Homo sapiens: one gene and its partners. The protein of the gene in region 7 interacts with the protein of the main gene of each other region in a pairwise test. Each region holds a gene or a part of one and is shown on either strand. Other genes may lie near its edges.

Region 1 (3,500 bases), on a different chromosome or scaffold from region 7:
GAGCTCCTGGGGGCCCTCTCAGAAGTCTGCCTACCACACAGGGCTAGTGATTACAGGTTAGCTGAGCCTCAAAGAGCCCCAGAAGACTTGCCAAATAGTTCCAGAGCCGGCCTTTGGGTACGACCTGCTCAGCTGGAGGAAAAGGCAGAGTCACTGACTCTTCACGTGGCCCAGAGCCTTGCAGTGCAGCATCTCCCGGCACTTAACAAATGCAGAGTCGCAGACTACACCCCAGACCTACTCAGTCAGAATCTTCTCTTTAGGTTGGGTGTGGTGGCTCACACCTGTAATCCCAGTACTTTGAGAGGCCAAGGCGGGTGGATCACTTGAGGCCAGGAGTTCAAGACCAGCCTGGCCAACATGGGGAAACCCCGTCTCTACTAAAAATACAAAAATTAGCTGGTCGTGGTGGTACGCACCTGTAACCCCAGCTACTCAGGCTGAGGCAGGAGAATCGCTTGAACCCAGGAGGCGAAGGTTGCAGTGAGCCAAGATCACACCACTGCATTCCAGCCTGGATGACAGGGCAAGAGTTCGTCTCAAAAAAAAAAAAACAAAAGAATCTAGGCCAGGCGTGGTGGCTCACGTCTGTAATCCCAGCAGTTCGGGGGGCCAAGGTGGGTACATAACTTGAGGTCAGGAGTTTGAGACCAGCCTGGCCAACATGGTGAAACCCTGTCTCTACTCAAAACTATGAAAATTAGCCGAGTGTGGTGGTAACGCACCTGTAATCTCAGCTACTCGGGAGGCTGAGGAGGGAGAATCACTTGAACCCAGGAGACGGAGGCTGCAGTGAGCCAACATTGTACCACTGCACTCCAGCCTGGATGACAGAGTAAGACCCTATCTCCAAAAGAAAAAAAGAAACTTCTTTTTAGACACATTCTCAGGGCGTTCACATGCACATGAAAGGTTGAGAAGCACCAGAGTAGAGTGGTGGTTCCCAGTGGGGTCCAGTTTTGCCCCTGGGAACATCTGGCCCTGTCTGGAGACACCTGATTGTCACAGGGGGGTGGTCACATGTGTCTGCTGCTGGCTGGCGTCCAGGGGGTAGAGGCCAGGGAAGTTGTTAAACAGCCCACAATGCACAAGAAAGTCCTGAGAAAAAAGAATTACCCAGCCCAAATGCCAAGCGTGCCAAGGCCAGGAAAGCCTGGGACAGGGGAGGGAAGTTTCTCTGTCCTCCCACCTGTGTTCTCTGGTGGCCCAAGCCCACACTTCCTTTACTCCTATGTTACTGTGTCTCGATTCTCAGCTGCTGCTGTTTGGGCGTTCCTAAGACTGCCCTTCAAACTCAGCAGCCTTCCTGGTCTCACTTCTGTGTCTGCAGTCAAGCCTGAGCCTCTCGAGAAGGGTGGGCACCCCGCCTGCAGGGGGCACGACCGGCAGGGACCAGGAGTCCCAGACACACCTGATCCGTGTGCCACCTCTGCCTGGAGCTGACTACAACGGAAAGAAAGGAACCCTGAAAGTTTACCCTTACGTTAAATCAACACGATGTGTGAGAAACCAGACAGCACACATTCCCCCGGCCTGCCATGTTCTCCAGGCCCTCCCTGCCACGCCGGGGGCTCAGCAGGAGAGAGAGAACCACGACGAAGTCCAGGAATGGGATGTGACAGGGGCCAGGGACCAAGGCTGGTCTTGCCGCCATCACTCCGCTCACCACCTTGCTCTGACTACCGCACTCCATCACTGATCCCCTCACCGAGAGGCCTTTACCAGTGAGCACTGGGGGCCTCCGAGCCCCAAGACAGACTCTAGAATCCCACAGCTTTGACAGACAGGCCAAGAGGTCCCAGACATTCGCAACACTAAAATCACAGCATTTCAGACCAGAGTTGCCAACTCTGTCACCCGGGCTGGAGTGCAGTGGCGCGATGGCTCACTGCAACCTCCGCCTCCCAGGTTCAAGCGATTCTCCTGCCTCAGCCTCCCGAGTAGGTGGGATTACAGGTGCCCACACCCGCCTAATTTTTGTATTTTTAGTAGAGATGAGGTCTTACCATGTTGGTCAGGCTGGTCTCAAATTCCTGACCTCAAGTGATCCAGCCACCTCAGCCTCCCAAAGTGCTGGGGTTATAGGCATGAGCCACTGCAACCAGCTCAGAGTTGGCCACTTCTCATTTTGTCAGTGATAAAAAACAACTACCATCTATTACCTTCATAATTTCACAAAAGAACATTTACATAAATATTATATATATACACACACACATATATATATATATGACCTAATCTCAGAATAAAAAACAGTCCTCATCAAGAAAGGGCAGTGAGCAAGCTAGCAACTAGCATTCTTTTTTTTTTTTTGAGACAGGGTCTCACTCTGTCACCCAGGCTGGAGTGCGGTGGCGCAATCTCAGCTCACTGCAAGCTCTGACTCCCGGGTTCACACCATTCTCCTGCTCCAGCCTCCCGAGTAGCTGGGACTACAGGTGCCACGCCCAGCTAATTTTTTGTATTTTTAGTAGAGACAGGGTTTCACCGTGTTAGCCAGGATGATCTTGATCTCCTGACCTCATGATCCGCCCACCTCAGCCTCCCAAAGTGCTGGGATTACAGGCCTGAGCCACCACATCTGGCCACAAGCTAGCATTCTAATAAACACACATTAATTCAATTATGCAACAAAACAAATGCACACGCACACACAGTTTAACCAAATGCAGCAGGGCCTCATCTGGGCTCTGAGAGCGCAGGAAGCCAGAGCCTCCTCTAATGCGGACAGAACTACAGAACGGCTCTGGGGACCGCAGCAGGGACTGGGAAAGAGGGTCCAGGCAGAGGAGCCTAGAGGAGCCTGCGCAGCCACAGGGCCCAGGCAAGGCTGGAGACACTACTAGCCAGCACTCCACTCCCCACCACTCCCTACAACTTGGGGGCCCCATTATCGCAGCCCCAACTGGGACTGGGCTCATCACTCTTTGGAGCCTGAAGTCCTTCAGGAGGCCTGAATCCTCTGCAGTTGTGTCTACAGTGAGAAACCCCAAGAACTTGTAATGAAACAAAATACAACTATTTTATAGAAGAAAACTGTAAAAATCACCCCAAAATCTGTAAATGGCCCTCCACAGTCTGAGACCACAAAACACCCAGTCCTTCTGCTCACTGCTGTGGCTTTGTCTCTGGGCTGCCCAGGCACTCTCAGCACTGTGTTTCCAACACAGCCTTCCCGACAGTCCTGGTGCTCACTCCCCCAGGCAGTTTGGGTTCTGTCCTCAATTAGATGAATGAACTGGCTTTCCGATCCTGTCACCAGGGTCTGTGAGTGCACTTGTGTGAACGCAATGCTGAGCGCCAGGCCCACTCAGGGCGCTAACAAGGCAGGCCTTTAAGCCAGGATGGCTCAGGGCCCCAACTAGCCTCCAGCTACGACCCCAAAATGAGGAGTGCCCATAGTGAGACCTGGGAGACGAATAGCTGTCTCTAGGCTCTGCTAATACCGACCCACCTCAACTACAGAAGACTGGAAGAGGTCCTGCCCGGGCCCAGGGTCT
Region 2 (3,500 bases), on a different chromosome or scaffold from region 7:
TCTAAAATTAACACACATTATTTGTGTAAAAAAGAAATAAGGCGACTATAAAACCCAGCTGGCCGCCTTAACTGGAGCGGCTGGAGGAGGGCCTGCCCACTCCTAGCACTGCCCCTGCCCAGTCCTGAGCCGCCGGCCCTTCCTTCTGGAGCCACTCACCACTCTGGCTGGAGGCTGCAGGGCCCTGGGCCCTGGGGAACAGACCCACGAGGCTAGAGGGCAGGTCCTGTCGTGCGCGGTCCAGTTGCAGCCTCTGCTGGGCCAGACTCAGATGCTCCTGTCCCCGTTCCCCCAGAAAGAAGGACTCAGCTGTGAGGTGGGAGGCTGGGGGTGCCGGGGGCAGGGGCGCCATACACTCAGGGAGCCTTGCCTGGTGCATGTGCTGCTCCTGCTTCCGCAGCCGCTCCTGCTGTTGCTGCACCGCCTGCAACCGGGCCTGCTGCTCTGCCTGCACCTGCTGGGCCTCGCGCAATGCCCGCTCCCCCTCCTCGTACTTCTCGGAGGCCACCTGCAGGGAGGCCGCCTGGGTCAGGGCTGCCTGGGCTCAGATGCGCCCACGCCCATGTGCCCGAGCAGCACCTTGCTCATGCTCTCCACCTCCTCGGCGCGGAGCTTGACACGCAGGGCGGTGGCGTTGATCCTCTCCTTCTCCAGCCGCAGCTCCTGCCGCTCCTGCTCCAGGGCTGCTCTCTCCGCTGCCAGCTGCTTCTCCTCGGCCCGGAGCTCGCTGGCCCTGATCTTCAGCTCAGCCTGCTCCTGGAGACAGCGGAGGCCCTGCTGCATTCTCCTCCCAGGAATTGCGCTGCACTCTGTGCAGGACTCTAGGGTCCCCTCTGCCCACCCTGCCCCTGGGAGGAGGTGGTGGAGCCAGGGGCTTCCAGGGAGAGCCAGAGAAGCCTGGGGCCAAGCCGGAGTGCTGCCCTCACAAGCCACGTGACTGTGGCAGGCTCAACTCTGAAGTTCGGTTTCCTCATTTCTAAATGACCAAAGTCATGGGAACATGAGGATCAAATAAAATGTGTATAATGCACCTGGGACAATACGAGGAAGATGTTAGCATGATGATGCGATTACTGTTTTAATCCCTATGCTCTTGTGACATTAGTGCTACACTCTCCTTTCCTAAGACTGGAAGCGGATGTGTCCAGATGGAGGGGCGCAGGCAACCCTGGGCCCTCCACTGTCCGGAGGCTCTGGGCCCTACCTTGGCCAGGCTGATGAGGGTGCCCTCCCGCTGGGTGTCCACCTGCAATGCCCGCTCGGCCTCGCGCTCGGCCCGCTCCTTACTCAGCTTTTGCTGCGCGGAGAACTCCGCCCACTCGGCAGCCAGGCGCCGCCGCTCCTCCCCGCACTTGAGCATGACAGACTTCTGCTCCTCCAGCAAGGCGCTCTGGGATGTGGGGGTGAAGGCACGGGGTGAGTGTCCCTGGGCATAATGGCAGGGGCAGGGGCTGAGTGCGGTGGCTTGACTCACCTTGGCCCGTTCCAGCTCCGCCCTTTCCATGGCCATCTGCTGGGCCGTGACCTTCCTTTGCTCCTCTAGGGCGCGCTGCATGGACTCCGCCTTGGACTGCTCGGCAGTCACCCGCCAGCGTTCCTGTAGGGCCCAGGGCAGGACTGAGAGCGTGGTTCCCGCCCTGAGGATCACGCCTGGCCACTCCCTGAGAAGCTGCATGAACCCACCAGTGTCTCCCACACTATGCCACTGACACGTCCTTCCCAAAGAGGCACAAAATGAGGGGTGCCTGGGAGGCACTGCCAGGGCCCAGCCCGCACGATTCTGCCCAAGAGAAGGACCCAGCAGGTGCCCTCCCAACCCTCAGGTCTCCAACAGCACCAAGGCTAGCAGCTTGGGAGGGCCAAAGAGCAGCAACATCCCTGCCGCTGAATCGCCAGCTACGCACTCTGCCTGTCCTCACCCATCAGCCAAGCAGGCTAAGCACAGGGTGGCTTAATGCTGTGCTGTGGGCCCAGCCACACACAGCACAAGGCGAGAGCTTCACTGTGCCTGACCCCAGGCAGATGCTTAACACAGTTACCAAATGAAGAGGCGAATCAAAATGCTTCACAACATAAAAGCATCTCTATCTACGTTGACATGGCTACAGGATAGATATCAGGTCAGCAGTGGACATCTCTGACTAGTGGGATATTTTTATTTTCTTCTTTAAAAACATTTTTTTGGGCCGGGCACAGTGGCTCAGCCCTATAATCCCAGCACTTTGGGAGGCTGAGACGGGTGGATCACCTGAGGTCAGGAGTTCAAGACCAGCCTGGCCAACGTGGTGAAACCCATCTCTACTAAAAATACAAAAATTAGCTGGGCGTGGTGGCAGTTGCCTGTAATCCCAGTAGCTCAGGAGGCTGAGGCAGGAGAATCCCTTGAACCCAGGAGGCGAAGTTTGCAGTGAGCTGAGATTGCGCCACTACACTACAGCCTGGGTGACAGAGCGAGACTCTGACTCAAAAAAAAAAAAAAAAAAAAAAAAGTTTTTGGCTGGGCATGGTGGCTCACGCCTGTAATCCCTGCACTTTGGGAGGCCAAAGTGGGCAGCTTGTCTGAGCTCAGGAGTTTGAGATCAGCCTGGGCAACATGGCAAACCCCCGTTTCTACAAAAAATACAAAAAATTAGCTGGGTATAGTGGCATGCACCTGTGATCCCAGCTACTTGGCAGCTGAGGTGGGAAGATTGCTTGAGCCCAGGAGGTTCAAGCTGCAGTGGGCTGAGATCTTGCCACTGCACTCCAGCCTGAGTGACAGTGAGACCCCATCTCTAAAAAAAATTTTTTTTTTTGGCCAGGCATGGTGGCTCCCACCTGTACTCTCAAAATGTTGGGAGGCCTAAGTGGGCAGATTGCTTGAGCCCAGGAGTTCAAGACCAGCCTGGGCAACATGGCAAGACCCACATCTCAGTAAAAAATACACAATTAGCTGGGTGTGGTGGTTTGCGCCTGTAGTCCCAGCTACTCAGGAAGCTGAGGCAGGAGGATGGCTTAAGCCAAGGAGGTCAGGCTGCAGTGAGCTATGATCACACCACTGCACTCCAGCCTGGGCAACAGAGCAAGACCCTGTCTCTAAAAAATAACAGTGCTTTGTAAAACCTTAGAAGATGATAACTACTAGCTGAGGACAAAAAGATAGGTGGGAGGACAAGGAAGGCTTTGTGGAGGTGGTAGCATCGAAAGATTCATTACCATTGAATTCAGCCTAGAAAGATTTCCACAGGTAAGGAAAAGGATGTGAGCAAAGGCAGGGACTGCAGGTGTGCACCACCACACCCAGTTAATTAAAACAAAATTTAAATGTTTTTATTATTTATTTTTTTGAGACAGAGTCTCGCTCTGTTAACCAGACTGGTGTGCCATGTTATGATCTCCACTCACTGCAGCCTCTGTGTCCTAGATTCAAGCGATTCTCCCACCTCAGCCTCTCTAGTAGCTGGGATTACAGGCGTGCGCCACCACGCCTGGCTAGTTTCTTATTTCTTTATTTTTAGTTT
Region 3 (3,963 bases), on a different chromosome or scaffold from region 7:
TTATAGGACAACTGGGGAAATAAGAACACTAGTTAGATATTTCATGATATCAAGAAATCACTGTTCACTTTAGGAGGCTGAGTCACTTGAGGTCAGGAGTTCAAGACTAGCCTGGCTAGCATGGTGAAACCCCGTCTCTACTAAAAATACAAAAAAATTAGCCAGGCATGGTGGCACATGCCTGAAATCCCAGCTACTCAGGAAGCTGAGGCAGGAGAATTGCTTGAACCCTGGAGGCAGAGGTTGCAGTGAGCTGAGATCATGCCACTGCACTCCAGCCTGGGCAACAGAGCCAGACTCCATCTCAAAAACAAAACAAAACCAAAAAAAGAAATTACTGTTAAATTTTTTAGGTTGCATATGTGACTTTTTTTTAAAGTAATCTTAGCTTTTAAAAATACATACTGGCCAGGTGCTGTGGCTTGCACTTATAATCCCAACTCTTAGGGAGGCTGAGGTGGGTGGATCACTTGAGGTCAGGAGTTCAAGACCAGCTTGGCCAACATGGCAAAACCCTGTCACTACTGAAAATACAAAATTAGCCGGGCGTGGTGGCGGGTGCCTGTAGTCCCAGCTACTTGGGAGGCTGAGGCAGAAGAATCGCTTGAAATGCGGAGGTGGAGATTACAGTGAGCCGAGATCACGCCACTGCCCTAGAGCCTGGGTGACAGAGCAAAACTCTATCTGAAAAATAATAAAAACAATAAATAAATAAAATACTACTGAAATATTTATGGAGGAAATCACATACTTGGAATTTGCTTCAAAATAGTCAGTGTAGGGGGTTGGAGGTGGGTGGAGGATAGGTGAGGTATACGTGAAAGAAGCTTGGCCATGAATTGATGATAACTGTTGAGGTAGGCTAATAGAGTTCATTATTCTGTTATCTCTACTCTTGTATATATTTGAAAATTGCCATAATATAAAATTATAAAATAAGTGATAAATGCTTATATATGTAGAGAATATTTCTGGAAAACTATCCAAGATACTGGTAACAGTAATTGCCTTTAGGAAGGGGAACTAGGCCTATGAGACGGGGATGGGGGAGTAAAGACTTTCTTCTCACTGTACAATTTTTATTTTATTTATTTATTTTTTCGAGACGGAGTCTCACTCTGTCACCCAGGCTGGAGTGCAGTGGCGCGATCTCGGCTCACTGCAAGCTCCGCCTCCTGGGTTCACGCCATTCTCCTGCCTCAGCCTCCCGAGTAGCTGGGACTACAGGCGCCCGCCACCATGCTCCGCTAATTTTTTTTGTATTTTTAGTAGAGACGGGGTTTCACTGTGTTAGCCAGGATGGTCTCGATCTCCTGACTCGTGATCCGCCCGCCTCGGCCTCCCAGAGTGCTGGGATTACAGTCGTGAGCCACCGCGCCTGGCCCTCACTGTACAATTATTATATTACCCACAGAATAAATTAATTGAATTATTTTAACAGTCAAAATGAGTAAATATTACATATTTCCCCCCTCTACCAAATTAATCATTAGACTACCGACATGCTCTAGTATATCCTTCCTGTTCTGTTCTTGACTGCACATCATACGCTTCAGCTACCATCTATTTCTGCAGTCTCTTTTACAGCTAAAATTTTCAGCAAAAGTTCTTACTTTCACTGTCTCTTCCCCTCAAATATCATTTCCCTTTTTCATCCCACTCCAATCTGGTTTCCCTCCTCCCCACCCTCCCAAAACTCCCTCTGTCAAGGTCACCAGTAAGTTCCATGTTGCTAAATCTAACAGACACTCTGCATTTAAGTTGCTCAGCCTGTCAATAGCATTTGGCACAGTTGGCCATTGCTTGCTCGATACACTACCCCTTCTCAAATTCCAAGATACCACATTCTTCCTCTATACAACCTCTAAACACTGAAATATTCCAAGGTTGAGTCTTAAGCTTTCTTTCACTTCTCCATCGACATTCTCTCCTTAGCTGAGTTCATCCACTCCCGTAGCTTTAAATACCACCTATTGCTAATGTCTCCAAAATTTTCATCTCTAACCCTGACCTCTCCTCTGAGGTCCAGACCCATATATCCAACTGCCTACTAGGTACCTTACACTTGGATGTCTAATAGACATTTTATTATTTATTTATTTTATTTATTATTATTATTTTTGAGATGGAGTCTCGCTCTGTCGCCCAGGCTGCAGTGCAGTGGTGCGATCTCGGCTAACTGCAACCTCCGCCTCCCGGGTTCAAGCGATTCTCCTGCCTCAGCCTCCCGAGTAGCTGGGATTATAGACTTGAACCACCACGCCGGGCTAATTTTTGTATTTTAGTAGAGACGGGGTTTCACCATGTTGGCCACGCTCAGGTGATCCACCCGCCTCCGCCTCCCAAAGTGCTGGGATTACAGCGGTCAGCCACCGCCCCCCGCAGTTCTGTCACCTGCGGCAGGGTCCCCTGTTAACCTTGTTTCTCCTTCCCTACTTCACACTCCCCTCTTCTCTCTCAATTCCTCGGGCTCTGCCCCACACCCTCCCGTTACTTCAGTTCCTCCACCTCCACCTCCCTCTAACCTTCTGCCTCAAGTTATCCCCCCGCCCCCCAGCCTCAGGTACCGCTTCTCTGTGGTTCCCTCGCCTCTATCTCAGGTTCCCCGCCTTCCACTTCAGTTTTCTTTCCACAGCTTCTGACCCTACGTTCCCAGTCCACACCCTCCCGGCCAGACCCTACCCGGCTGCTCCAGCGTCAGCGCCCCCAGGCGGCGAATGCCTTCCTCGTCCAGCTCCCATTGCTCCGCCATCCCCGCCCGCCGCTCACCTGCCACCGCCCGCGAGACCACCCGGCGCACGCCAGGCCCCGCCCACTGCCCCGCCCCCCGCGCGCGCGCCGCCGCGACCCCGGGAACCGTTATTGGCCGGGTCACAAGCCCGCCCGCCCGCTGCTGGAGCCGCGACCATGGTACGGAGCCCGCTCTGGCGGGGGCGCCAAAAGCACCAAAGCGGCGAATGGGGGCCGCTGTGGCCAAGGATTGGGGCTAAGTGGTTCGAGACCTGGCTCTGGGGCATGGGAGAGAGCGAGGGGCCCCCAGCCGGGAAGGATTTGGGGGGCTGGCTCTGAGGAGTTAGAATAACGCTCTGTCTTGAGGGATGAAGTGTTCTGGCTCTGAGGATGTGGGGGACTCCGGTTCTGAGGGCTGGGCGTGTGCCCCTTTGACGGGGTGGTCTTCATATCTCAGCGCTGGGGGATGCTGACTTTGGGGCAAGGCGAGGGTGTGTGTGAAGGGGAGATCCAAATCTGAAGGATTGGAGCGTGGGGACAGAACTCTAAGGCATGATGGGGAGCTCCAGATCTGAAAGGTTGGGAATCCTGGCTCTGAGGAGTTGGGGTCCTGTCTTTAGAGCATGAGGAAGTTCTAGCTCTAGAAATTGACTTGGACGGGCTGGGCGCGGTGTCTCACGCCTGTAATCCCAGCACTTTGGGAGCCCGAGGTGGGCGGATCACCTGAGGTCAAGAGTTCAAGACCAGCCTGGCCAACATGGTGAAACCCCATCTCTACTAAAAATACAAAAATTAGCCGGGTGTGGTGGCACGGCCTGTAGTCCCAGCTACTCGGGAGGCTGAGGCAGGAGAATCGCTTGAACCCGGGAGGTGGAGGTTGCAGTGAACCGAGATTGCACCACTGCACTCCAGCCTGGGCGACCTGAGTGACAGAGCCAGACCTTGTCTCAAAAAAAAAAAAAAAAAAAAGGTAAGAAATTTACTTGGACGGAGCTTCTTCGGGGGAGAAGGATCAGCGTGGGAAAGAGAGAAGCTCTTTGTAATGGGGTGGGGATGACTGCTTTAGGGCTACCCCGTTTCCTGAAGTCAGTCCGGCAAGAAGCCTTTTGTCTTTCAAGCACCACAGGTTCCCCTAAGCTTGCCTGTGACTGAGGGCTGTCGCCAGGCTGCGATAGCTCTGCACTAACCAGCCCCTGAGTAGTCTTTGGGAAAGAACAGCCGCATCCCTAACCC
Region 4 (2,789 bases), about 26 Mb from region 7:
GAGATCACCAAAGACACCTTGAGAACTTGCCATCAAGTACAGCAGTCAAAAAAATACAATATTTTTAAACTTTATGGAGTGGAATGGTCTTTTAAAAAACTAGTTTTTTTTTTTTTAACTAATGTATAAATCCGATCTAGAAAACCAGAGATGGGCCACTGTGATTGAAGGTGGGCAAGGGTAGCCTGAGACTCCTCCAGAGCTCCTGGAGCACAGCTTGAATGAAAGCCACTTATCCACTAGGTTGGCACTTACTGGGAGAAGTGCAAGGGATGCCAAGATGTCTAAGGCTTTGACTTTGGGTTGGAAAGAACCGGGTGAGATTCTAGGGGATTCACTCCTGGGTTAGTCAGCCTCTGGCAGGGCTCAGGATTCCAGGTCTGCCACATGTATTGGGTGCTGCTGGCAGGTCTATGTGAGCTGAGCATTACTTGCCCCACCCTGGTTCCAGCCAGGCCCCAATAGCTTGACCTCACAATATAAAAAATATTTTCACTATCTTATGTTTCATGAATTTAATTCTATTAAGGTAAGGCTTACTACGTTCAAAACTCCAACCCCCTCCCTTTTTTCTTGCCCTTTAACAAGGCACCATCCGGTTTTCTTTACTAACAAAATGTCAGTGTTCAAGTTCAGTCTTGGTGCAAGATCGATGGCAGATGTCAGGGGCTGGCCGGGATGGCTTACATTGATATCATCATACGTAGGTCCTTCTCATAGATGTCAGGGATGTTACCTACCGGCGAGTTGATCATGCGCACGGTGTTGTTATTAAACAGCTTGAATTCGTAATTGATGAGCTGTTCCCAAAAGCCGTTGTTGGGCCGGATGATGGGGCGGCGCGACTTGGTCCATGTATGGGCGTCCAGCAGCGACATGGAGTGGTATTTCATGAGGTACGCAAGGCACAGTGAGGCGGAACGGCTCACTCCAGCCATGCAGTGCAGCAGCGTACGGCCCTGCCTCATATCGATGGTGTGGATAAGATCAGCAATGGGGTCAAAAAAGTCGTAGAGACGCGAGTCACGAGCATCGGTAACAGGCACCTTTATGTACTGAATGCCCTCGAAGAATACGTTGACCACTTCCACCGAGGCATTGACAATGGCGGTGATGCGATTGCTGGACAGAAGGAGTTTGTCGTTGGCGGCCACACCATTGCTGAGAAACAAGCTTCTGGTTATTTGGGAGAAGCTGTAGATGGAGGGCTGCTGGACACCCTGAGATGATGAAAAGGAGGACGCGGATGCTGTCATCAAGGCGGCTGGTCCGAGGTCTCTCTACGCTGGTTCGGGACACAACACTTACCAAGCTAGTTCAGGATAGCAGCCGCGCCGCCAAGTCTCAGGCTAGGTGTTGGAGAAAGAGGACCAGCTATCGGCCACCACCCTCTTTCTGTCTCCTCTCACCACTCCCATCTGGGCGTCACAATCCCGGACAGATAGCCCTGCGGCTCCGGTTTCCATGGCAATGGCCGCTTGCCGCAAGGAGGACAGGGCCTCTAAGCAGGGTCTTCAGAGACACCCCAGTCTCTTTTCTTTTTATCTTTCTTCATAGTCATTTATTTTCCAAGGCCTAATTCTTATCTTTCTTGACTTTTAAAAATGTTCTGTTACAAGATATCTATTTTATGTTTCAATTATTGGACCACGTTAAACAAGATCTATGAATACTTCTATTTCATCAGTGTTGCAGAACAGGGCTTACACTTTCCCTGCAAAATAGCAATATCACATTCTAAGTTGGGGAACAGCATTTGGCTCATGTGATATGCTAATCTCTATAAAACTGGAGCGAGATATGGGATTTGGCTGGGCTTGGTGGACTGGCCTGATACTTCTTTGTTGATTGTAACCATAAAATTATTTTCCTGCTTACAAACACATCAGGGCTGGTTGTAAGAGAGCATTGCTAACTGATATATAGCCCTTTATCTTGAAGTTGGCCTGTGGTGGACAGTTGTGACTAATTTAGCTGTGTCATAGTCCATTTGTACATACAGCTCAAATGACTTACCGCATGAGTCTATTTTATTACCTGAAACAACAGTTCAAATTATTTTGTTTACTTTCTTCAAAAAAAAATGCCTACATGCTTTGTGAACTACAAATCACTTTGACCACTACCGATGCTGTCTTCCCAGTAATATTAAACATTCTGAAACAAGTTAATGCTACATGGTAATTGGGCCAAAAATTGAGACAGTTTTGCTCTGTCACCCAGGCTGGAGAGTCCCAGGCCTCTGCTTCCTGGGTTCAAGTGATTCTTGTGCCTTAGCCTACCGAGTAGCTGGGATTACAGGAACGCACCACCACACCTGGCGAATTCTTGTATTTTTAGTAGAGACAGGATTTCACCATGTTGGCCAGGCTGGTCTCAAACTCCTGACCTCAGGTGATCCACCGGCCTCGGCCTCCCAAAGTGCTGGGATTACATGCACGAGCCACAGCACTCAGCCCAAAAATTAATTTCTAAAATGTAACCTGACATTTGCATTTCCTTCCAGCTAAGATTTTTATAGAATTTGGCTGAAAATTGAAAAGAACTATAGCCTAAAACTAACAAATTGTTTCACAGAGTAGCCAATTGACTCACATACTTTGCTCTCATTCCATCATCATTTTGGTATGTGTTCAAAGGTGTGCTGTGATTACGAACAAAGATGAAATAGATACCAGGCTGCTTATGATGGTCAAGGAAATGATAACCTCAAAACACAACACACGTTTCTTTTCTCAGTTGTCATAATCAAATTATTTTGCATTACTTAAATTGTCAGTCCCCACAAA
Region 5 (3,500 bases), on a different chromosome or scaffold from region 7:
ATCTTGCTGTTTTCAGACGTGAGTATATCAGGCTCACTTCTGCCTCAGGGCCTTTGCATGTGCTGTTCCCTCTGCTTAGAAATGTCTTTCCCCAGATATCTGTAGGGATCACCACTCTCCTCCAGGGCTGTGCTAAAGTGCTATCTTATCAGTGAGGCTTCCCCTGACCCCCCTATTTTAAACCCTGTACCCTCCTCCCACCCCACATTCCGTATCCTGTTGCTTAATTTTTCTCCATAGCCTTGATCACTGACGTGTTGTATGGTTCATCCATCTCCCAAGTGGTCTAAATTTCCACCTCTGGCCAAAAGGCTTTGTTTCAGCTGTGGACTTGGTTCTTCAGCAGTCTCCTTGACATCTCACAGGACCCTTCACAACATGTCGGAAAGCAGCCCTGGATCCTCTTCTGCATCTGCTCCTTTTTCCATCTTTCTCCTCCAACTAACTGGTACCTCCTGCCCTTAAACCAGAAGTCTAGGGAATCATCCATGACCCACCCCTGACTCCAGGCCATCTCTGACTCTTGTCCCTTCTACCTCCTGCATATATTTTGAACTGTCCGCTTGTCCCCATCCCTGCTGTCACCCTTGTGATGCAAGCCACCATCTCAGCTGAACAGACCTCTGCCAAGATCTTTCTGATGGCCTCCACTTCCTTTCTTGCCCCTCTCTGGTCCATTCCCAAAACAGCAGTCAGTGATACTTTTAAACAATGTGGAGTTTGGCCAGGTGCAGTGGTTCACACCTGTAATCCCAGCACTTTGGGAGGCCGAGGTGGGTGGATCCCCTGAGGTCAGGAGTTTGAGACCAGCCTGGCCAACCTCTGCCTCCCAGGTTCAAGTGATTCAACACTGTTCTTACTTTGGGAGGCCAAAGTGGGCAAATCACGAGGTTAGGAGTTCAAGACCAGCCTGGCCAACATGGTGAAACCCTGTCTCTACTGAAAATACAAAATTAGCTGGGCGTGGTGGTGCGCGCCTGTAATCTCAGCTACCCCGGAGGCTGAGGCAGGAGAATTGCTGGAACCCAGGAGGCAGAGGTTGCAGTGAGCCAAGATGCACCACTGCACTCCAGCCTGGGCAACAGAGCGAGACTCCATGTCAAATAATAATAATACTATTATTATTATTAATACTATTATTAATAATAATAATTAAATAATTAATTATTATTTAAATGCCACCTATAGGCCATCATTTCCCAGGTTTATACCTCCAGCCTGGACTCTTCCCTGAATCCAGACTCATAAATTCATCTAACTTCTCTTGGATGTCTAATGCACTTGGATGTCTAATTAATTATTATTATTAATAATAGTATTATTAATAATAATAATAGTATTATTAATAATATTAATAATAATAATAGTATTATTAATAATAGTATTATTAATAATAATAATAGTATTATTAATAATAATAATGTTATTATTCTGCAAAGGAGGTATGTCCTGCTTCACAGGTAAGGACACAGGCTCAGCAAGGCTAAGTAATAGTTGAGGTTAACAGAGCTCGGAAATGTCTGGGCTGGGATGTGAGCCTCCTCTGACTCCAAATCTTCACATTTTGCTTTTGGACCTTCTACCTTGACCCCTTCACCTCCTACTCTTCCTCTTTCTCTTACTCATTGGCCTGACCAAGTCCTCCTGCCACTCCACAGTATCTGTCATCTGGCCCCACTTCCTCCATAGAGTCCTGTCTGGTTTCTTGCTCTTTCACTTCTGGATTCCCCTGAATCCTTTCCCAAAACCTCTGCACCTGCTCCCAACCCACTTCTTTTGTCCTGCAGGTCTCAAACGTCATTTCTTGGGGCTGTAGAGTATCTCTTGCCCACTGTAAGGATGTAGCTGCCTCAGGATAGAGCAGGACAGCAAGGGGCACACCACCAGCCTGTCCCAGGACCCCAGCATAGTAGTGATCACTAGCACTCATCTGGGAGCTTGACTCTCCCACAGCCTTCAGAGGCAGGTCCTGTCATTATTGTTCCCGTCCTCATGCTCATGGCTAAGGACGTGGTAGGAGGCAAAGGCACGAACGGCCACACGTGGGAAGGTGCTCCTGTGGCCAGGTCGATCTGATTGCTTCTTGCCTCCTTTCAGAGGCCCTCTACACAGAGACAAGGCTGCAGTTTGACGAGACAGCCAAGCACCTCCAGAAGCTGGAAAGCACCACCAGAAAGGCAGTTTGTGCATCTGTGAAAGACTTCAACAAGAGCCAGGTATAGGTACTCCGCGACCTCGGGCTCGACGACTGGAGGGGAGGATGAGCCCACTACGGCTTCCCAAGGCTCTCCGGCTTCCCTGGGATCCCAGTCTCAGCCTGCTCCCTGGTCACATGACCGGCCCTGACAGAGACCCTGATGGGCTGCCTGATGACAGAGATGGATGAGACCCAGTCCTGTGCCTTAGCTCTGAATCTTGGAGGGAAACCTGCCAAACTAGCCATGTAACCTGGGGAAGTCAGCTCACCTTTCTACACCTCGGTTTCTTCTTCTGTAACATGAGGATGGTGACATCCACCTAGACTGTTACCGCCTAGCTCTGCTCCACTGCCTGGTGCTGGTTTCCATTCTTCCCACCTCTCAGACTTCCCCTTTACTGAGAACAGCTACTTGGATGCTCACCGATGGCAGGGATGATGAAGAAGATCATAATGAGCTCGAACACTGGGGCCTCCTGAGACCTCCCACCTCCTCTCTAAACTCTGGCCCCCCTCCTCCCACACACTCCCCTCCCCTCCAACCTGATGCTGAAATTGCTGAAATAGGTTCTTCTTTTTGTTTCTTTGGTTTTTTTGTTTGTTTGTTTTTGAGACAGGGTCTCACTCCATCACCCAGGCTGAAGTGTAGTGGCACGATCATGGCTCACCGCAGCCTCGACCTCCCAGGCTCAGATGATCCCCCCACCTGAGCCATCCAAGTAGCTGGGACTACAGTCACGCGCCACCATGCCCAGCTAATTTTTGTATTTTTTTGTAGACACAGGGTTTTGCCATGTTGCCCAGGCTGGTCTCAAACTCCTGAGCTCAAGCAGTCCTCCCGCCTCAGCCTCCCAAAGTGCTGGGATTACCACATCTGGCCCTCTTTTCGTTTTGGAAATTAGAGCTCGCCCCCCTGCCTCTCCCTCCCCCCACAAGGTTTTCTTTTCGAATGCAATTCTGTTTTCTGGTGGGTGGGGACTTTGCCTGGGTTCATTGATCAGGTTCGCTCGTCAACTAGAACTATGGTCCCCAAAGAAGGCTGTGCAGGATCTGTGGGAGAGCAGATACCAGAGCCCTGCTTTATATTCATTTTTAACCTCATCACTTTTGATTTCCATGTACATGTGTAGTTATAAGCATGTGCTATCATTAAGGTATAGTAGTACCATGCTGTGAACTAAATATATTGGAGATACAAGCTCAAAACTGTCCTGGTGGAGGCAGGCAGTCAAAAATCCCAGAGAGGCTGGACCAGACACCAGAGAATGTGGGTTTTCAACACGGGGGAGAGGAATGAGGAGAG
Region 6 (3,500 bases), on a different chromosome or scaffold from region 7:
AAATTAGTGGACCCACAGAAGAACGAAATCTTAAAAGTTAGAAGGAATTTAAGAAAGCCTTCTAGTTTAAACTCTAAATTTGCACACGAATTGGTCTGGAAACATAGAATTCTTTGAGGTTTTGTTAGTTTTATAGTGGCTATAGCTGTCTTCCAGAATTGAATGAGTATACACGTACATCTCAAAGTTTGCTTTGAAAGTATGATTGAGTTCATTTAGGGATGGATACATTGGAAAAACAACTTAAAAGACTTGAGTTTGGTCATGATTCTGCTATTTAGCTGTGTGACATTAAATCTTAATATTTCTGAATAATAATGCCTTCCTAAACCCAATGTTCATAGAATTGTTCAAGGATCAACTAAGAGGCCTGGCGTGGTGGCTCACACCCATAATCCTAGCACTTTGAGAGGCTGAGGCGGGTGGATCACCTGAGGTCAGGAGTTCGAGACCAGCCTGGCCAACCTGGTGAAACCTCGTCTCTACTAAAAATACAAAAATTAGCTGGGCGTGGTGGTGGGCGCCTGTGATCCCAGCTACTCGAGAGACTGAGACAGGAGAATCACTTGAACCCAGGAGGTGGAGGTTGCAGTGAGCCTAGATCGCGCCACTGCACTACAGCCTGGGCAACAGAGTGACAGAGTGAGACTCCGTCTCAAAAAAAAAAAAGGGTCCACTAAGGAAGAAATTTGGAAACTACAAATTGAGTAGTTCTGTTATGATATGTTATTTATTCTACCACATGGAGGGAAGATTGTTTCTCTTAGGAAAAAAAAAAATCATAATCTATAACAGAAGTGGTCCTAGCTTGGAAGATACCTGGAGGGACATGTGTTTGTGAGTAAAGACATGTTATATCCACATCCCAGAGTCACTAATCATTTCTTTAACCTGTGGAGTGCACCTTAAGTATACCCTGAAAAGTCTAGTACTCCATGGAAATTCATAGTATCATCTTCTTTCCCCCTCTTTTTTAAAAAAAAATTTAATAAGTTGAGGCAAAATCTAAAATACAGATTGAGTTGTATGAATATATACCTAATTTAAAGTGGGAGTTATAGAACAACTGGAAAATGGGGAAATGCAGATCAGAATCCTTTCAATAGCTGAACTTTAACAAAAATTTTTTAATGGAATGCAAATGTACTTTACAAGTTAGATCAATTTTAGTTAACTTTTTATTTTAAATACTGTTCATTAACTCATATAGCTTTTTCTAGACTTACAATGGCATTTACTTTTAATTATATCCTTTCTAGAAATTCTGAACATCTCCCTTTTACTCTTGGCCATTGTGCATAGTTTCTAATCCTATACCATCCCCACCCTATTTCTAACAGGTTTTTGTTTTGTTTTGTTTTTTGTTTTTTTGAGACAGAGTCTCGCTCTGTTGTCCAAGCTGGAGTGCAGTGGCCCAATCTCGGCTCACTGCAACCTCTGGCTCCCGGTTCAAGCACTTCTTGTGCCTCAACCTCCTGAGTAGCTGGGATTACAGGCGCCCACTACCATGCCCGGCTAATTTTTGTATTTTTAGTAGAGATGAGGTTTTGTCATGTTGGCCAGGCTGGTCCCAAACTCCTGACCTCAAGTCATCCGTCCTCCTTGGCCTCCAAAAGGGATTACAGGCGTGAGCCACTGCCCCTGGCCTCTAACAGGTTTTTTATTACTAAGGTAGGATGACTGTGATAACAAGATATGATAATGAAAATGCAGTTGTATGTCCTGCATATGAATATTTTAAAATGATTAATTTATTTTTGAAATGAAAATGTTTTCATTCAGGACTACTATAAAGCTTTGGAAGATGCAGATGAGAAGGTTCAGTTGGCAAACCAGATATATGACTTGGTAAGTAAAAGTAATGTGCATACTGTGCCATAAGTACTTGAATAACAGATTATATCTTAAATTGTATTGGCTTAAATGTAGTAGGAAGAAGCAACTAAAACTGAAGTATTGCTCTCTTGATCACATCTAATTTGACATTTCAGTGTCCATTTTATGGTTTCTTTGTGGAAAAGTCAGAGTGGTTAGTTAATGTGGTGAGAACTGTACATTTTAGCAAGTCTATACGGCGGTAAGGTGGTTTCTGATGTTAGATATTTTTTAAACAAGAATTAATGTTTAACTTTATTTTACTAATCCTTGTCTTCTTAAGGTAGTGTGTTTACTTGCCTTATACATCATTTTGAGATTGTTTCTGTGGTAAAATACACCTAAGAAGACTGCTTTGACAAGAGTTCTTGGTAGTCTGATTAAAATGAAGAAGAATCATTTGAATCAGTGTTTATGTGAGTGATGTTAAAAGATCGTATGTAACAGCTGTGTCAGTTGTTTAAGCAATACAAGATGACAAACTTTAAACAAGATTCTTTTTTTGCAGCAGCACTTCTAAAAGATTGAAAACACCAAGAAGATAGATAGAATATTCACTATTTCTCATATTGATGCAATTGTGGTGCTCTTTTTCATTTGAAACATCTTCTCCTAAAATATACACTTTAAGAAATAGTCATTTCTGTTTTTGCATTAAAGTAAATTAAAGCAGAAAACACATGCTCACTTTTGGCTAACTTCAGTGTATAGATTTCATACTTATGTTGTCTTTCCTGGGTACAGATTTATTACTGAACAAGTACGTGTAAGTAAAATGTCATTGGTGAGCAGGACACAAGATAAAAGGTGAACACCACATATGGTGTGAATTGTAAATGCTTATACCACAAACTTGAAAATGTGTCATGTAGAGCCATGGAAAATGTCTAGTTGTTTTTATGTAGTACACACATTTTAATGGTGCTAACAACCTGGGCTCTTTTGTTCATAGAGTTATTCTGAAAAAAATTTCATAAAAGACACTGCCTAAAGATAGGTAGAATAGGCTGTAGCTTGATTTACTGTGGAATAAAAACCAAAAAAAAAAAGGTCTTAATTGTTTCAGTCTTTAATTATGTCTATAAACTTAGAAAAAGGCATTTACATTTGAATCTAGACTAATTTGTTTAGTAACATTCTTCCTCATATTCAATGACTGTATGTATCAGTCCTTATTTAGAGACTGCCTGCTTTTTAATTCATATAGCTCTTTGGTTCTATTCTTTGTTTTGTTTATTATTTTGTTGTTTTATTGCTTGTTAGACCTTTACTAAAGATATTTTGTGTATTTAGAAAAAATATAACATAAATATATGCTTTTTAAATATGTGTGTGTGTGTATTCATCTCTTATTTAAAAACCACACTGTTCATCCACTCTGTGCCTGAAAAAAGGGAGCTGTACCTGGGTCTAATGGAGGAATAAAAAGTAAATACTAGGCCGGGCGCAGTGGCTCACGCCTGTAATCCCAGCACTTTGGGAGGCCGAGGAGAGTAGATCACGAGATCAGGAGATCGCGACCATCCTGGCTAACATGGTGAAACCCCATCTCTACTAAAAATACAAAAATATTAGCCGGGCCTGGTGGCGGGTGCCTGTAGTTCCAGCTACTCGGGAGGCCGAGA
Region 7 (3,500 bases):
GACCAGCCCTAGCTAGAGAGCAATTGTCCATCCCAGTAGTTGGAACTTGAGTTCCAACAAGCCTTGCCACTGAGAGCTAAAGTGCTCTGGGGTTCTAAATAAATTTGAGAGGCAGTCTAGGCCACAAGGACTGCAACTCCTGGGCAAATCTTTGTGCTGTGCTGGGCTTGGAGCCAGTGCATCTGGGGGACATGCGACCTAGTGAGACACCAGCCAGGGCAGCCAAGGGAGTGATTGCACGACCCCTCCCTCAACCCCAGGCAGTGCAGTTTGCAGCTCCAAAACAGACCCCTTCCTTCCACTAGAGGAGAGGAGAGGGAAGCTTAAGGGGGACTTTGTCTTGCATCTTGGATACCAGCTCAGCCACAGTAGGACAGGGCACTTGGCATAGTCATGAAGGTCCCATTCCAGGACCTAGTTCCCAGATAACATTTTGAGACACACCTCGGGCTAAAAGGTACCCACTGCCTTGAAGGGAAGGACCCAGTCTCGGCAGGATTCATCACCTGCTGACTAAATAGCACTTTGGCCCTCAGTGATCAGCAGCAGTAGCCAGGTAGTACATACTGTGGGCCTTAGGTGAGACTCTGAGACATGCTGGCTTCAGTTGTGACCCAGTACATTCCCAGCTGTGGTGGCTATGAGGAGAGACTCCTTCTGCTTGAGAAAAGCAGAGGGAAGAGTAAAGAGGATTTTGTATTGCAGCTTAGATATCAACTCAGCCACAGTGGGTTAGAGCACCAAGTGGGCTCCTAGGGTCCCCGGTTCCAGGCCTTGGCTCTTGGATGGCATTTCTGTACCTGTCCTGGGCCAGAGAGGAGCCCACTTCTCTGAAGTATGAGTCCCAGGCCTGGCAGCATTCACCACAAGCTGATTGCAGAGCCCTTGGGCCTTAAGTGAACACTGGCAGTAGCCCAGCAGAACTCCCCACACCACCTGATGGTGGTGGCCACGGGGAGAGACTCTTCTGCGTGTGGAAAGAGGAAAGAGTGGGAAGGACTTTGTCTTGTGGTTTGGATACCAGCTAAGCTGCAGTAGAATAGAGCACTAGGTAGATTTCTAGGGTTTCTGACTCCAGGCCCTGGCTCCTGCATGTCATCTCTGGGGCCAGGGGGAAGTTGCTGCCCTGAAGGGAAGGACAGCCTGGCTGGCTTCATCACCTGCTGACTGTAGAGCCCTAAGGCATTGAGCAAACATAGGTGGTAGCCAGGTAGTGGTTACAGTGGGCCTTGGGTGAGACCCAGTGCTGTGCTGGCTTCAGGTCTGACCAGCACAGTCCCAGTGGCAGTGGCCACAAGGGTGCTTGTATCACCCCTCCTCCAGCCCCAGGCAGCTCAACATAGTGGAACAGAATAGCAAACCCAGAAATAAATCCATACATCTACAGTGAACTCATTTTTGACAAAGGTGCCAAGAACATACTTTGGGGAAAGAAGAGTCTCTTCAATAAATGGTGCTGGGAAAACTGGATATCCATATGCAGAAGGAGGAAAGTTGAGATCCCTATGTCTTGCCTTATACAAAGATCAAATCAAAATGGATTAAAGACTTAAATCGAACACCTCAAACTATGAAACTACTACAAGAAAATATTGGGAAAGCTCTCCAGGATATTGGAGTAGGCAAAGATTCCTTGAGCAATATCCTACAAGTATGGGCAACCAAATCAAAAATGGACAAATGGGATCACATCAAGCTAAAAAGCTTCTGCACAGCAAAGGAAACAATCAACAAAGTGAAGAGACAACCTGCAGAATGAGAGAAAATATTTACATACTACCCCTCTGATAAGGGATTAATAACCAGAATATATACAGAGCTCAAACAACTCTATAGGAAAAAAAATCTAATAATCGAGTTTTAAAATAAGGAAAATATCTGAATAGACATTTCTCAAAAGAAGACAAACAAATGGCAAACAGGCATATGAAAAGGTACTTACTATCACTGATCATCAGAGAACTGCAAATCAAAACTACAGTGAGATATCATCTCACCCCAGTTAAAATGGCTTATATCCAAATGACAGGCAATAATAGGAAGTGCTGGTGAGGATGTGGAGAAAAGGGAACCCTTGCACACTGTTGGTGGGAAAGTAAATTAGTACAACCACTATGGAGAACAGTTCGGAGGTTCCTCAAAATACGAAAAATTGAGTTACCGTATGATCCAGCAATCCCACTACTGGATATATACCCAAAAGAAAGGAAATCAGTATATCAAAGAGGTATCTGCACTCCTATGTTTGTTGCAGCACTGTTTACAATAGCTAAGATTTGCAAGCAACCTAAGTGTCCATCAACAGATGAATGGATAAAGAAAATGTGGTACCTATACACAATGGAGTACTATTCAGCCATAAAAAAAATAAGATCCAGTCACTTGCAACAACATGGATGGAACTGGAGGTCAGTATGTTGAGTGAAATAAGCCCAGCACACACACAAAAAACAAACTTCACATGTTCTCACTTATTTGTGAAAGCTAAAAATTAAAATAATTGAACTGCTGGGGAGAGAAAGAGTAGAGTGATGGTTACCAGAGGAGGGGTGGGGGAAATGTGGAAATGGTTAATAGGTACAAAAAATAGAATGAATAAGATCTGTACTTAATAGCACAACAGGGTGATTATAATCAACAATAATTTAATTGTACATTTTAAAAAACTAAAAGTATAATTGAATTGCTTGTAACACAAAGGATAAATGCTTGAGGTGATGGATACCCCATTTATCCTGATATGATTATTATGCATTATATGCCTGTACCAAAAAATCTCATGTACCCCATAAGTATGGGTACATGTACACCGCTATGTACCCACAAAAATTAAAAATAAAACATTTTTAAAACTAAAAAACACTGGATTGTAGTGATAGTTGCACAACTCTATAAATTTACTGAATTGTGCACAAGCCATGGGTGAATTTTATGATATGTGAATTATACCTCAAGAAACCTAATTTTAAAACAACTGAATAAACCTGCACAGAAAAGAAAAAGAAATCAGCAGAGGAGGGACTAGAATACAGGTCTTCAATGTTCCTTCTACTCTTCTGAGAAAGGATGCTTCTGAGAAAGGATGGGAATAGCAATAACTTTTTTCAAAAGGTTCATATCATCACAGAGAAAGTAATCATCCCACCATGATTTGAAAATATAAAATAATTCAAAATGCCTGGTGGTACTGCTACTTGGACCTAATCCATAATACACTTGTGTTAGAAAATGTCTACTTTCAACTATTTATATTTCAGAAACCCAGGAAAATTCTGTAGTGTGTAACTACAAAATTGTAATATGAATTTATCCTAAAACTCATATCAGAAAGCATTATTGTATATAATTTATAGTACACAAGACAGTTCAGTTCTTTAAAATTAACTGAAAGTTTAATATCACTATTTGACTTACAGTGCGGCTAATGTGGCTCAGAGCATCTTCAAAATAGCCCCAAACTTCTTCCAGGGGACAGAGCTCTACATTCGACGCCCCATCTG

The links.
Region 1: the proteins of TEX11 (region 7) and MAD1L1 interact in a two-hybrid assay, tested with the Homo sapiens proteins (2 studies listed by BioGRID and IntAct).
Region 2: the proteins of TEX11 (region 7) and FBF1 interact in binary tests that used the Homo sapiens proteins (3 or more experiments, as listed by UniProt).
Region 3: the proteins of TEX11 (region 7) and LRRC36 interact in binary tests that used the Homo sapiens proteins (3 or more experiments, as listed by UniProt).
Region 4: the proteins of TEX11 (region 7) and DUSP21 interact in binary tests that used the Homo sapiens proteins (3 or more experiments, as listed by UniProt).
Region 5: the proteins of TEX11 (region 7) and RIBC2 interact in a two-hybrid assay, tested with the Homo sapiens proteins (one large-scale study listed by BioGRID and IntAct).
Region 6: the proteins of TEX11 (region 7) and ING3 interact in a two-hybrid assay, tested with the Homo sapiens proteins (2 studies listed by BioGRID).

The regions. Positions count from the first base shown.
Region 1 is NC_000007.14:2,226,446-2,229,945, forward strand, and holds part of MAD1L1 (mitotic spindle assembly checkpoint protein MAD1), read right to left. Parts: intron 1-3,500. UniProt on the Homo sapiens protein: Component of the spindle-assembly checkpoint that prevents the onset of anaphase until all chromosomes are properly aligned at the metaphase plate.
Region 2 is NC_000017.11:75,913,543-75,917,042, forward strand, and holds part of FBF1 (fas-binding factor 1), read right to left. Parts: intron 1,598-3,500; coding exon 1,475-1,597; intron 1,391-1,474; coding exon 1,205-1,390; intron 757-1,204; coding exon 580-756; intron 509-579; coding exon 371-508; intron 278-370; coding exon 160-277; intron 1-159. UniProt on the Homo sapiens protein: Keratin-binding protein required for epithelial cell polarization. Involved in apical junction complex (AJC) assembly via its interaction with PARD3. Required for ciliogenesis.
Region 3 is NC_000016.10:67,325,652-67,329,614, reverse strand, and holds the start of LRRC36 (leucine-rich repeat-containing protein 36), read right to left. Parts: upstream 2,801-3,963; 5' UTR 2,753-2,800; coding exon 2,683-2,752; intron 1-2,682. Other genes in the region: BTB/POZ domain-containing protein KCTD19, read left to right, coding at 2,908-2,910.
Region 4 is NC_000023.11:44,842,600-44,845,388, reverse strand, and holds DUSP21 (dual specificity protein phosphatase 21), read right to left. Parts: upstream 1,369-2,789; 5' UTR 1,257-1,368; coding exon 684-1,256; 3' UTR 501-683; downstream 1-500. UniProt on the Homo sapiens protein: Protein phosphatase component of the sperm flagellar doublet microtubules. May act as a regulator of sperm motility by mediating dephosphorylation of sperm doublet microtubule proteins.
Region 5 is NC_000022.11:45,420,193-45,423,692, forward strand, and holds part of RIBC2 (RIB43A-like with coiled-coils protein 2), read left to right. Parts: intron 1-2,097; coding exon 2,098-2,216; exon of another isoform or gene 2,217-2,781; intron 2,782-3,500. UniProt on the Homo sapiens protein: Microtubule inner protein (MIP) part of the dynein-decorated doublet microtubules (DMTs) in cilia axoneme, which is required for motile cilia beating.
Region 6 is NC_000007.14:120,953,777-120,957,276, forward strand, and holds part of ING3 (inhibitor of growth protein 3), read left to right. Parts: intron 1-1,782; coding exon 1,783-1,848; intron 1,849-2,383; coding exon of another isoform or gene 2,384-2,395; exon of another isoform or gene 2,396-3,204; intron 3,205-3,500. UniProt on the Homo sapiens protein: Component of the NuA4 histone acetyltransferase (HAT) complex which is involved in transcriptional activation of select genes principally by acetylation of nucleosomal histones H4 and H2A.
Region 7 is NC_000023.11:70,548,712-70,552,211, forward strand, and holds part of TEX11 (testis-expressed protein 11), read right to left. Parts: coding exon 3,415-3,500; intron 1-3,414. UniProt on the Homo sapiens protein: Regulator of crossing-over during meiosis. Involved in initiation and/or maintenance of chromosome synapsis and formation of crossovers.